Homo sapiens: one gene and its partners. The protein of the gene in region 1 purifies or fractionates together with the protein of each later gene. This does not show direct contact. Each region holds a gene or a part of one and is shown in the gene's direction. Other genes may lie near its edges.

Region 1 (3,722 bases):
AATAACCAAAAAATGGAAACAAACCAAATGTTTATCCACTGATGAATGGATAAAAAAGTGTGGCATATCCATACAATGGAATATTATTTGGTAATAAAAAAAGAATTATTAAATTGTGCTACAATATAAATGAACCTTTAAAACTTCCTAAATGAAAGAAACCAGTCACAAGAGACCACATATTGTGTGGTTCCATTTATATGGAATGTCCAGAATAGGCAAATATATGGACAAGAAAGTAGATTAGTAGCTGCCAAGGGTTAGGAGTAAATGGGCAGTGACTGCTAATGGGTATGTGATTTTTTTGGGGGGTGATGAAGATGCTTTAAAATTTATTGTAGTCTTGGTTGCACGACTCTGAATATACTAAAAACCACTGAATTGTACGCTCTAAGTAAGTGGATTGTGTGATACATGAGATACAGATCAGTAACTCCATTTTCTCTCTCTCTTTTTTTTCTAAGAGACAAAGTCTCCCAGACTGGAGTTGCAGTAGCAGCATCATAGCTCACTGTAACCTCAAACTCCTAGGCTCAAGCGGTCCTTCTGCCTCATCCTCCCAGATAGCTAGGGCTGCAGATGAACACCACCATGCCTGGCTAATTCTTTTTTTTTTTACATTCTTTGTAGAGATGTGATCTGACTTGGTTGCCCAGGCTGGTCTCTTAACTCCTGGCCTCAAGTGGTCCTTCTGCCTTGGCCTCCCAAAGTGCTGGAATTACAGGCATGAGCCACCATGCCTGGCCTTTTTTTTTTTTTTTTTTTTTTTTTTTAAGCATTATGGTTGGAACCTTTTATTTCACAGTTGAATCACTAACGGCATCTGACAGCTGCTGCATTTCTTGTTTGCGTTAAGTGTTCAAATTGAAGCAAGTTGATGGTTCGGACCTTGCCAATTTAAAGCTTCATTATTTTTGAAATGTTTTTCAAATGTTATATTTTAACATTGGGTGTTCATTGATTTTTTTACTTTAAAAGTACTCCTTTGTCAGTTTACTCAAAATTTCAAAACTAGCTGCATGTATTTTGCTTTAATGTTGAATCTACACTTAGAGGTTGTACTCTAGATCTAGTTAAAATTCAATATCATTGTGGCCCTGCATTGCTAGGTGGGGCTTATTAAGGTTAGACATAAAATATTTCATATCCCCCCAAAAACTTGTGAATTCATTCTTCATCATGAACATTTAATCTTCCATTGGAATTCTAGAGGGACTTCAGACTTTAAAAAGTGTTTTATAAACCTCATCTGTTATTGGAAATAATTCTGGAGACCTTAAATTTAAAGATAATAGAAATTACATTTTGTAAAACTTTTATTTATACTTTTGAAGGTTAGAGACATCTTAAAGAAAATAGTACCTGTCAACTCACCATGTCGTGACTTTGGCAACAACTTTTTTTTTTTCTTGTTTAATAGTAGACACAGGGTCTCACTGTGTTGTCCAGGCTGGTCTGGAACTCCTGGGTTCAAGCAGTCCTCCCACCTTGGCCTCCCAAAGTGCTGGGATTACAAGCGTGAGCTACTGTGCCTAGCCAACTTTTATCTGATACAGTATTGTAGTTTCTCTTACTAATGCTTTTGTATTGTCACTACTCTTGTATCCTTATTGATTTTTTTTTTTAAATTGTGTCAAGTAATAAATTTTTTTGTTAGCCCAGGTGAACATCTGGTACAAAAATAAGGAAAATTTAAATATTTTTAACATCCATAGTGTTAAACACGCAAAATTATAAATTAAAAAAGTTTTTTCTTTTCCCCCAGCAAGTACATTGATACCCATTCTTGGATTTATCTTCCATGTCAGCAAGCTCTGGTACTTGGGATTTTAGTAATACTAGTGTCCTGGAGTGTCAGCAGAACAGGTTTAACAAGAGGTTTTTAGTAAATCTTCTATACATTCAATATATTAACATACTTTGATAACAACCTTGTTTGTGTGTGAATTGATGGACGTTTGCTTGCAACCCTTGTTATATTTTTCAGTTGATACTAGCAGGAGAATGAGTTGGTGCTAACGTGCACTTTTGCTTGCTTGATAATGTTCATCACAGCCTTTTTTTTTTTTTTAAGTTTTCTTTTCTTTTTTTTTTTTGGAGATGGAGTCTCGCTCTGTCACCCAGGCTGGAGTGCAGTGGCGTGATCTCAGCTCACTGCAACCTCCACCCCCGGGTTCAAGCAATTCTCCTGCCTCAGCCTCCCAAGTAGCTGGGACTACAGGCGCACACTGCCACGCCCAGCTAATTTTTTGTATTTTAGTAGAGACGGGGTTTCACCATGTTGCCCAGGGTGGCCTCGAACTCCTGAGCTCTGGCAGTCCACCCGACTCGGCTTCCCAAAGCGCTGAGATTACAGGCGGGAGGCACCGTGCCTGGCCAAGTTTTCTATTCTTAATTAGTAATCTGTTTCTGTATTGAAGGATAATTTTTTTTTTCTTCTCAGCAACCATGGCCTGAGACTGAAGAATAATTATTTACCTTACCACATTGAATCTAGCATTTCTAAAAACTCAAACAAAAAGCAGTTTAATACTAAGTCATTATTTAAAAGTTGAAGTACCCAAAATTTATAAAACTCTATACAATTATATTATGACATGGGATCTATTCAGATTTTATTATTGCCCAACAGACCATTCTTATGTGATGAGAGTGGATGTGTTTGTTTACTTTTGCAATTTTTGGTGAGGATGTGTGCACATGCCAGAAAGAAAAAACCAAGGCAGAACCACAGTTTTCTGATTAGGAATACAATTTTCTGAATCAACGTTCAGTATTTGCCACAAGGATGTAGGAGAATGTTAATTGTCAGTGGTCTTTACTATGTTAAATGTAACACACTATGTGTCTTTTTGCCAAGGGTGTGACCTAGCCATTAGAGGCTTATTTTAACCATCTTTGGTTGGAAAGCTTGCCAAAAATGAGTGTGATTTTATTTTTTTAATCCAACATGGTGATAAAATTTTGTTTGTTTTTTTGAGTGTGTTTTTCATAAAGGTGCATTGACTCTTCAAAATTGGTAACCATATTTTGCTCTTAAGAGTGTCATTTCTCAGTCTTAGTATTTTGGATGACCTTCCAGGGGTTCATGCCACATTTTGTGTATGCAATTACTAGAAATAGGGTCTATAGCTTTCTGAGAGTATCAAAGGAATATATACTCCTTAAACAGATAAGAATTATTAAAGGGGGTCATTTGCCCTTGCATAATTGATCCAAACTGTTGTACTTTATTAGTTTTTGCTCATGTTTGTGAACATTTGGCTTTATACATAGAAAAATGCACAATAAATAGCTGCTACAGAATGAAAGTTATTTGTTTCTTCCAGACTGATTGTCTGTTCTGTTCTTCTCATAGCTTTCAGTGTTCCTTTCTCTAGAGCTGTCCTTTCTAAACACTTTTGCACAAATCTATCAGATTTACGTTTTGAAGGAAACAAAGTCTTTAATGAGACTCCCTTCTAAGAACTATGTTTCGTATTTCATTTCACTTTGATTTAGGTGTTACTGCTGCAGAAAGTTTTATTTTTGTTTAAGTATAGGTTTGAGTTAATTTAAGGTTTATTTTCTGTGAAAAACTACTTTGAAATGTTAAAAAGGCAACTTTACAAGATTTGTGTCTTGAGGGACACTCAGCTTGGTTTTCATTATTATCCTTTTAGGATACAGATGAGTTTATTTTACCTACCGGAGCTAATAAAACCCGGGGCAGATTTGAGCTG
Region 2 (3,722 bases), on another chromosome or scaffold:
AGAAAGAAAGAAGGAAGGAAGGAAGGAAAGAAAGAAAGAAATTGCAGAGAGACACAACCAGCAGGACTTGCGGGGATTTTTATTGAGCCCCTCATCTCGCTAGTCATGTCACAGCAGCAGGAGGAGGAGAGCCGGTCGGGTGATGGGCTGGGGTGGGGGCAGGGAGGTGAGAGCAGGGAAGGCAGGAGGGTGGAGGCGATGATGAACTTATTGTGAGTTATACCAGGAGAAGTCTCTCCGGAACACCCCTGAGGAAATGTTCCACAGTTATTCAGAAAGATGAGTCTGGGGTTCTGGAAAAGGAATTGGAGTGGAGGGAGATGGGATCGAGGTGGTGAGCCTGAATCTAGCCATTCAACAGATATTTGAATCACTACCACAGAAAAAGCATGAGACCCGGGAGAGAACACAAAAATGACCAAGACTGGCCTGTCATGGTGGCTTAGGTCTGTAATCATAGCACTTTGGGAGGCCAAGGTGGGCAGATCACTTGAGGTCAGGAGTTCGAAACCAGCCTGGCCAACGTGGTGAAACCCTGTCTCTACTAAAAATATTTTAAAAATTAGCCAAGTGTGGTGGCCGCTGCCTGTAATCCCAGCTATTTGGGAGGCTGAGGCAGGAGAATCGCTTGAACCCAGGAGGAGGAGGTTGCAGTGAGACGAGATCGCACCAGTGCACTCCAGCTTGGGCAACAGAGCGAGACTCTGTCTCAAAAAAAAAAGACCAAGACAGAGTCCTGCCCTTTAAGTAGCTTACAACATAATTAGGGAGAAGAGGTATCTACAGACTTGTCCACCAAAGATCGTCTGTGGGGGAAATTCCTGTGAACATGTAGGGTTTCAAAGGTGAGGGTGCCTCACGGATGGCAGGCCCCCCAGGGCAGGGGCTGCTCACATGGGCTCAGGGCTTGGGTAGGATTTATGCCTGTCAAGATGAATGAGAACTTAGGCTGGATGTGTAGAAAGGTGGAAAAGGAGCAGGCGTAAGGATGGAAACTAAAGCCACATGCTCTCTGTGCAGGATTCCAGAAGCTTCCCTATTTCCTGGGGAGTTACTGCATTGCCCTTAGCCCTGGTGAGCAGCTTCTTCATTCCAAGTCCTCCTTCATCAAATTAGTCCTCTCACCGGATAAACCTCTAAGAAACTAAAACCCCTTAGCAGAGCAGAGTGCAGTGGCTCTGGACCCAGTCACCACGTTGAACCTGGTCGCTACCATTGACAGGCCAGGTCCCTTCGACAGGTTACGTAATTTCTCTGTGCCTCAAATTCCACCTCTGCGAATGACGAGAGGGAGGAATAATGGCCCCTGCCTCAAGGGTTATTTTAAAGACTAAATGAGTGAATATACAGAGCACAGTGCCTGGCTGGTATTAAGCATTACATAGTCTTTCAAAAAAGCTGGGCAGCTGGAGAAGTGAGGCACGGTCTGCTTTTCTCGGGACCTTCTTTGGCCACGTTAATGCCTCACCCCAAGCTGCAAAAATATGCAGCCCAACCCCTGAGGGAGGAGGAATGTCTAATTCGTATTTGTTTTGGTTGTGCATGTGCTTTGTTTGGCTTTCCCAGGGTCTCTCCAGCACCAGAGCTGCCGAGCTCCTGGCCCGGGATGGGCCCAACTCCCTCACCCCTCCCAAGCAGACGCCTGAGATCGTCAAGTTCCTCAAGCAGATGGTGGGGGGGTTCTCTATCCTCCTGTGGGTGGGCGCCTTTCTCTGTTGGATTGCATATGGGATTCAGTACTCCAGCGACAAGTCTGCATCCCTGAACAACGTAAGGCTCTGGGGTGTCCCCTCCTGGTTTTGCTGGCAGAGCCATCCAGTGAGGCCTTGGGGGCACAGCTGGGGGCTGAATGCCACTGCCTAGGTGTGGGAAAGTCAGGCATTTTCCCAGCTGTAAAACAGAAATTCTATCTGGCTTTCTGATCTTCTAGAGGCAGTGTGGGCATGAAGAGGGATACACAAAACACCTTGAATTTTTAAGGGGGAGAAAATCTGCATCCATGTGAAGTAGTTTGGGGTTCTGTCTCCCCCAAGCTAACCTCTTCCTTTAACACGGAGAGCAGCTGTGCCTGCCGAGACATGAGTACCAAATCCACAAAACTGAATTGGCCAACGTGATGCCAAGAGACAGAAGCCAGAGGCAACAAGCTACATGTCATAGGATTGGATTGACATGAAATGTGCAGAACAGGCACATCCTTGGAAGCAGGAACCAGATCGGTGATGCCAGGGCATGGGACAGGAGCAGGGAGTGACGGCAGAGGGGCCGGAGGGATCTCCAGGCAGGATGGAGATGCTCTGAGGCTGCGGTGGAGGGTGGTGTCATGGCTCTGTAAACTTAAAAAAAAAAATCAATAAGTTGCGCACTTAACATGGGCGAATTCCATGGCCTGTAAATTATACCAGGGCGTAACTGCCAGCATTGCATCCTCCCGTGGAGAGCTCTAGCCCCAGGGCCCGGCTGCTTCCCACTGCTGGTTTCTCTGACTGACGCCCTCCTTCTCACCCAGGTGTACTTGGGCTGTGTGCTTGGTCTGGTGGTCATTTTAACGGGGATCTTTGCTTATTACCAAGAGGCAAAAAGCACCAACATCATGTCCAGCTTCAATAAGATGATCCCTCAGGTGAGTGGCAGCCACCTATCCTCTGGCCTCTGGTGACTCCCAGGTGAGGAAGCCTCAGCTGGGAGGGGCACAGGGCCCTGAGGGCTACGGGTTTCCACTTCCTTCCCTGTCGGAGCAATCGTGGGCGAATTAACCCATCTGTCAGAACCCCAGTTCCTCACAGGATTTTGATGGTCAAATGAGGCACCACCCAGGGCAGTGCTGGTTAGCCCAAGGCATCTTCTGTTCCTGCTCCTCAGTGTTTGTGGATAGTCCTTCTGGGTTCTGGAAGGGACCTGTGGAAGGTCAGGGAGTGTTCTTTCACTGGCAGCCAAGGAGACCAGCCTGCAATTGTTTATCTGTGACCATTTTTGCTCCTGAGCCCCAGAATGCATTTGGTGGGGAAGCCCAGTGCTCCCTTCTTCCCCAAAAACCCCTGTCAGGTGTCCACACTGTCTCTGGCCCAGAGAACTGTGGGCTGGAGAGATTCTGGGTGGAAAAGACGCCTCCTGCCAAGCTTGAAGCAGGAGATCACCTCGTTAAAATTTCCCTGACACTCGCAAGATTATCAGCCTCCCCAGCCCCACCTTCAGTGTTCTGCCCAGACGCCCAGCCAGGATTGCTCACCCTTAGTGGTCTCCTTTTCTAGGAGGCCCAGGGCTCTGGCTTGGCCAGATCTGGCCAACAGCGACTCTTCTGTTCCAAGAACTCTCCATAAGCTCAAGAAAAAGTAGTTCTTAGAGTCTTCAGGCCTCGGGTGAAGCAGTCTTCTGTTTCATTCTTGCTGTTCTGACAGCCTCATGCTCCAGCAGCAATGCTGTGTCCACAGGGCCAGGTGCAGGCTGCATAACAGCATGGACTCAACAGTGAGAGTGATCAGGAAGTTCCAAGGCCTCTGTCCTGGGGTTCGGTGCGGCACAGACTTGGGGGAGGGCCGGTGTCCTTCCAGGGTCTGAGGCATCTGTCATGGTTTTTTTCTGCAGCAAGCTCTCGTCATCCGAGATTCCGAGAAGAAGACCATCCCTTCAGAGCAGCTGGTGGTGGGGGACATTGTGGAGGTCAAAGGAGGAGACCAGATCCCTGCAGACATCAGGGTGCTGTCTTCTCAGGGGTGTCGGGT
Region 3 (3,500 bases), on another chromosome or scaffold:
CTGGCCCTGCTGCGGCAGCCCGGCATCTACAAGCCCTTCATCATCGGCGTCTCCCTGATGGCCTTCCAGCAGCTGTCGGGGGTCAACGCCGTCATGTTCTATGCAGAGACCATCTTTGAAGAGGCCAAGTTCAAGGTAAAAGGGCCCTGCCTGGCCTGCCTCGTCCAGCCCCCACATAGATGGAGCTTCCTCCCCAAGCCCAGGGCCCAGCCATCCAGCACAGGCCTGGAGAGGGAGGGACCCAGCTCTCAGCTGGCCCACCTGACCTGCCTGGGCTCTGTCTCCCCCAGGACAGCAGCCTGGCCTCGGTCGTCGTGGGTGTCATCCAGGTGCTGTTCACAGCTGTGGCGGCTCTCATCATGGACAGAGCAGGGCGGAGGCTGCTCCTGGTCTTGTCAGGTGAGGGTTCACCCCTGTGCAGCCTCCCCGCCATGCGGGGGAGGGCCTTCGCCAAGGCCACCACACTGCAGGAGGAGGACAGGGAGCATTTGTGATGACAAACATCATGGACTAATGCGGCCATGATTTGACAGCAGCTTGTCACCAAGCACTCACTGCAGGCCTGTCCATGCCAGTGGCACTCCCACACCACGCCTTTAACCTCTGTGGTGAACCCACCAGAAGGCACTCTCACAGCCCCAGCTTATGACGGGAAAACTGAGGGCCAGGAAGGTGAAGTGACTCAAGAGTTTGTGGGTCCTTTTGGACAAGTGACTTTACCTCTCTGAGCCTCAGTCTCCCCCTCTGGGAAGTGGGGGTAATGGCAGTGCCTCCCTCAGCACCATTTTGAGGAGTGGGAGGTGATCCACGTGAGGCCTTCAGCAAGAGCTGCGGCCCACGGACATTTGGTACCCAGCAGCTGCTGCGAAGACGACCGTCGGGGCTGAGGGTTACTCGCTGCTGCTTCTGTGCCGGTACCTCCCATTTCCTCGGCCCAGAGGGTCTGCTCCGGGAACTTTTTGCAGTTCGCTGAGGTCCAAGGCGGGGTGGCTGCCACCCAGTCAGGGCTTCTGCGGCCAAGGTGCCAGAACACCAAGCTGGCCGTTCTCTGGGAGCCGGGCCTGCCCCTCTCAGAGGCATCCAGGCCATGCTGCTGCGCCCTGGGCCGTTCCCCGGGTGCCCCGCCCACTGCCGCCCTCCCGCCTGCAGGTGTGGTCATGGTGTTCAGCACGAGTGCCTTCGGCGCCTACTTCAAGCTGACCCAGGGTGGCCCTGGCAACTCCTCGCACGTGGCCATCTCGGCGCCTGTCTCTGCACAGCCTGTTGATGCCAGCGTGGGGCTGGCCTGGCTGGCCGTGGGCAGCATGTGCCTCTTCATCGCCGGTAAGGGGGCCTGTGGGAGGCTGGGCGAGGAGTGGGAGGTGATCCCCCCGGCCCTGCTGTGGCGGCTCCCGGCAGGTGGGGTCTTCCCCAGCCTCACCTCTCCTCTCGTAAGTTCCAAGCTCTGCATTTCTAGCTCTGACCACATGCAGCTGTGGAACTAGGCCCCTCTGCGTTCCTTTCACTTAATCCCCTGAGCAGCCCTCGAGCAGGCCCCGTTGTGACCCCATCTCAGAGACAGAGCCTGTGCCTGAGGAGGGAAGAGGCTGGCCGAGGCCTTGGCAGGAAAGCATGGAGCTGGTGGGACCACACTGGGATCCGGGACCCCACAGCCCCACAGGCTGGGAAGCTGGGTCTCTTGGCTCTGCAGCAAGCTGAGGAGCCCAGCCCTGCGGACCCTGATGCCTGTCTTGCCTGTCTCGCTCCCACAGGCTTTGCGGTGGGCTGGGGGCCCATCCCCTGGCTCCTCATGTCAGAGATCTTCCCTCTGCATGTCAAGGGCGTGGCGACAGGCATCTGCGTCCTCACCAACTGGCTCATGGCCTTTCTCGTGACCAAGGAGTTCAGCAGCCTCATGGTGAGGGCAGGCTCCACCAGCACCGCGTTCGTGCAGTCAGCCGAGAAGCACTTTCTAAAACCACTTGTATTGCAGAAGACCCAGGGTCGTGGCCTTACATGCAGCCTGAGCCCCACCATGCCTGGGCCACTGGCCATCTTGGGCAAGGCGACGTGGAGGCAGATGGGCTAGGCCAGATGGGGAACCCAGGCTGTGACCCCTTGGGAGTCCTCTGCCTGTCTTGGCAGTCAGACAGCACAGCTGGCCTCTCCCCTTAGTGAACGTCAGGAAAGCGGGCCTTGAGCCTAAGGTCTTACATGGGAAGAGTTGACAGGGCTGGGCTGCAGCCCCACCCTGGCTACTTCCTTGCTGTGTGACCTTGGGTATGATGCTTACCTTCTCTGAGCCCGCTTCTTTGGCTGAAACTGGAGGAGAGTAACAGCAGCTTGCTCTTAAGACGGATGGGAGCATTAATTCAGTTCATCCTGTTGCTGCCTTCTCACGGATGGACTGGCACAGGTGTGGCCCCTGTCCCGGGGCTTCCCAGCCAACAGAGAGACAGTTCTGGGGTAGATGATCTGGTTGTTTGTTCAGTCATTTGTGCCCTCCAGGTCTCCTGGCATGTGCCATGTCCAGGCCCATTCAAGGCGCCAGGGAGAGCAATGAACAAGATGGACAGGGTCCCCTTTATGACAAGGACGGGAAAGGCCATGGCAGTGGTGGGAGAATGAACCCCAGTGGGGCTGGGTTAGGATGTGGTGGGGCGGGTCATGAGGGGCCAGCCTGGAGTCTGTGCAGAGCTTGGGACCCGCTTAGGCAGGACTGCCCGGGGAGCACATCGAGGGGGCCAGGCCGATGCCTGGGGGTGGAGATTACTTGCTGCAGCTGGGAGGGGATGCGCAGCAAAGGAAGGAGGAAAAGAAGCCAAGAAGGAGGTGACAAAGGACCTAACAGTCCTTTTTTAGGAGAGAAAATGTCCAAGAGGCCAAGAGAAGGCCTTCGAGGAGGGAGAGATCGCCAGGTCCCAGAGGACCAGGAGCTGAGAAGCACCTTTTTAGTTCTGGCACGTGGGAGGTCACAGTGGTGGTGGATGGCAGGGACAGGTTCTGACTGAAGGCCCCATGTGCTCCTGGGGCCATGCTCGCTTTGCCCTGTCTCACCCATTTCCACCACACTATGAAAGAACCCACCGGGGGCCTCAGGGTGGGGCCAAAGCTGAGGGTGGAGGGTTGGTCTGTGGGCCCTGGAGTCAGACCTGGAACAGGAGCCCAGCTGTCACTGGATAGCGGGTCTCTGGCCTTGAGGCAGTCACTTCATTGCTGTGAGCCTCAGTTTCCCCAGCCATACGACCTCGGTATCTTGGACAGTGCTCGGCCCAAGCCACCAGACTGGATGCCAGACTATCCTCCATGTCCCAGAGCTGGGTGGAGATAAAATGGGTGTGGCCTTGGGCAGGGCAGGCTGGGGTCAGGGGACTGGACCCCCTGGTGGCAGAGCTGTCTCAGTGATCGCGTGGGGCTTCCTGATCTCTCCCCGCGTCCACCCATGGCCTTTCCTCTCTCTGCAGGAGGTCCTCAGGCCCTATGGAGCCTTCTGGCTTGCCTCCGCTTTCTGCATCTTCAGT

Evidence for each region.
Region 2: the proteins of TIMM23 (region 1) and ATP12A purify together in Homo sapiens (affinity purification with mass spectrometry; one large-scale study listed by BioGRID and IntAct). This does not show direct contact.
Region 3: the proteins of TIMM23 (region 1) and SLC2A8 purify together in Homo sapiens (affinity purification with mass spectrometry; one large-scale study listed by BioGRID and IntAct). This does not show direct contact.

Annotation. Positions count from the first base shown.
Region 1 is NC_000010.11:45,978,861-45,982,582, forward strand, and holds part of TIMM23 (mitochondrial import inner membrane translocase subunit Tim23), read left to right. Parts: intron 1-3,662; coding exon 3,663-3,722. UniProt on the Homo sapiens protein: Essential component of the TIM23 complex, a complex that mediates the translocation of transit peptide-containing proteins across the mitochondrial inner membrane.
Region 2 is NC_000013.11:24,686,753-24,690,474, forward strand, and holds part of ATP12A (potassium-transporting ATPase alpha chain 2), read left to right. Parts: intron 1-1,566; coding exon 1,567-1,770; intron 1,771-2,509; coding exon 2,510-2,623; intron 2,624-3,585; coding exon 3,586-3,720; intron 3,721-3,722. UniProt on the Homo sapiens protein: The catalytic subunit of a H(+)/K(+) ATPase and/or Na(+)/K(+) ATPase pump which transports K(+) ions in exchange for Na(+) and/or H(+) ions across the apical membrane of epithelial cells.
Region 3 is NC_000009.12:127,403,669-127,407,168, forward strand, and holds part of SLC2A8 (solute carrier family 2, facilitated glucose transporter member 8), read left to right. Parts: coding exon 1-135; intron 136-290; coding exon 291-399; intron 400-1,149; coding exon 1,150-1,323; intron 1,324-1,751; coding exon 1,752-1,897; intron 1,898-3,443; coding exon 3,444-3,500.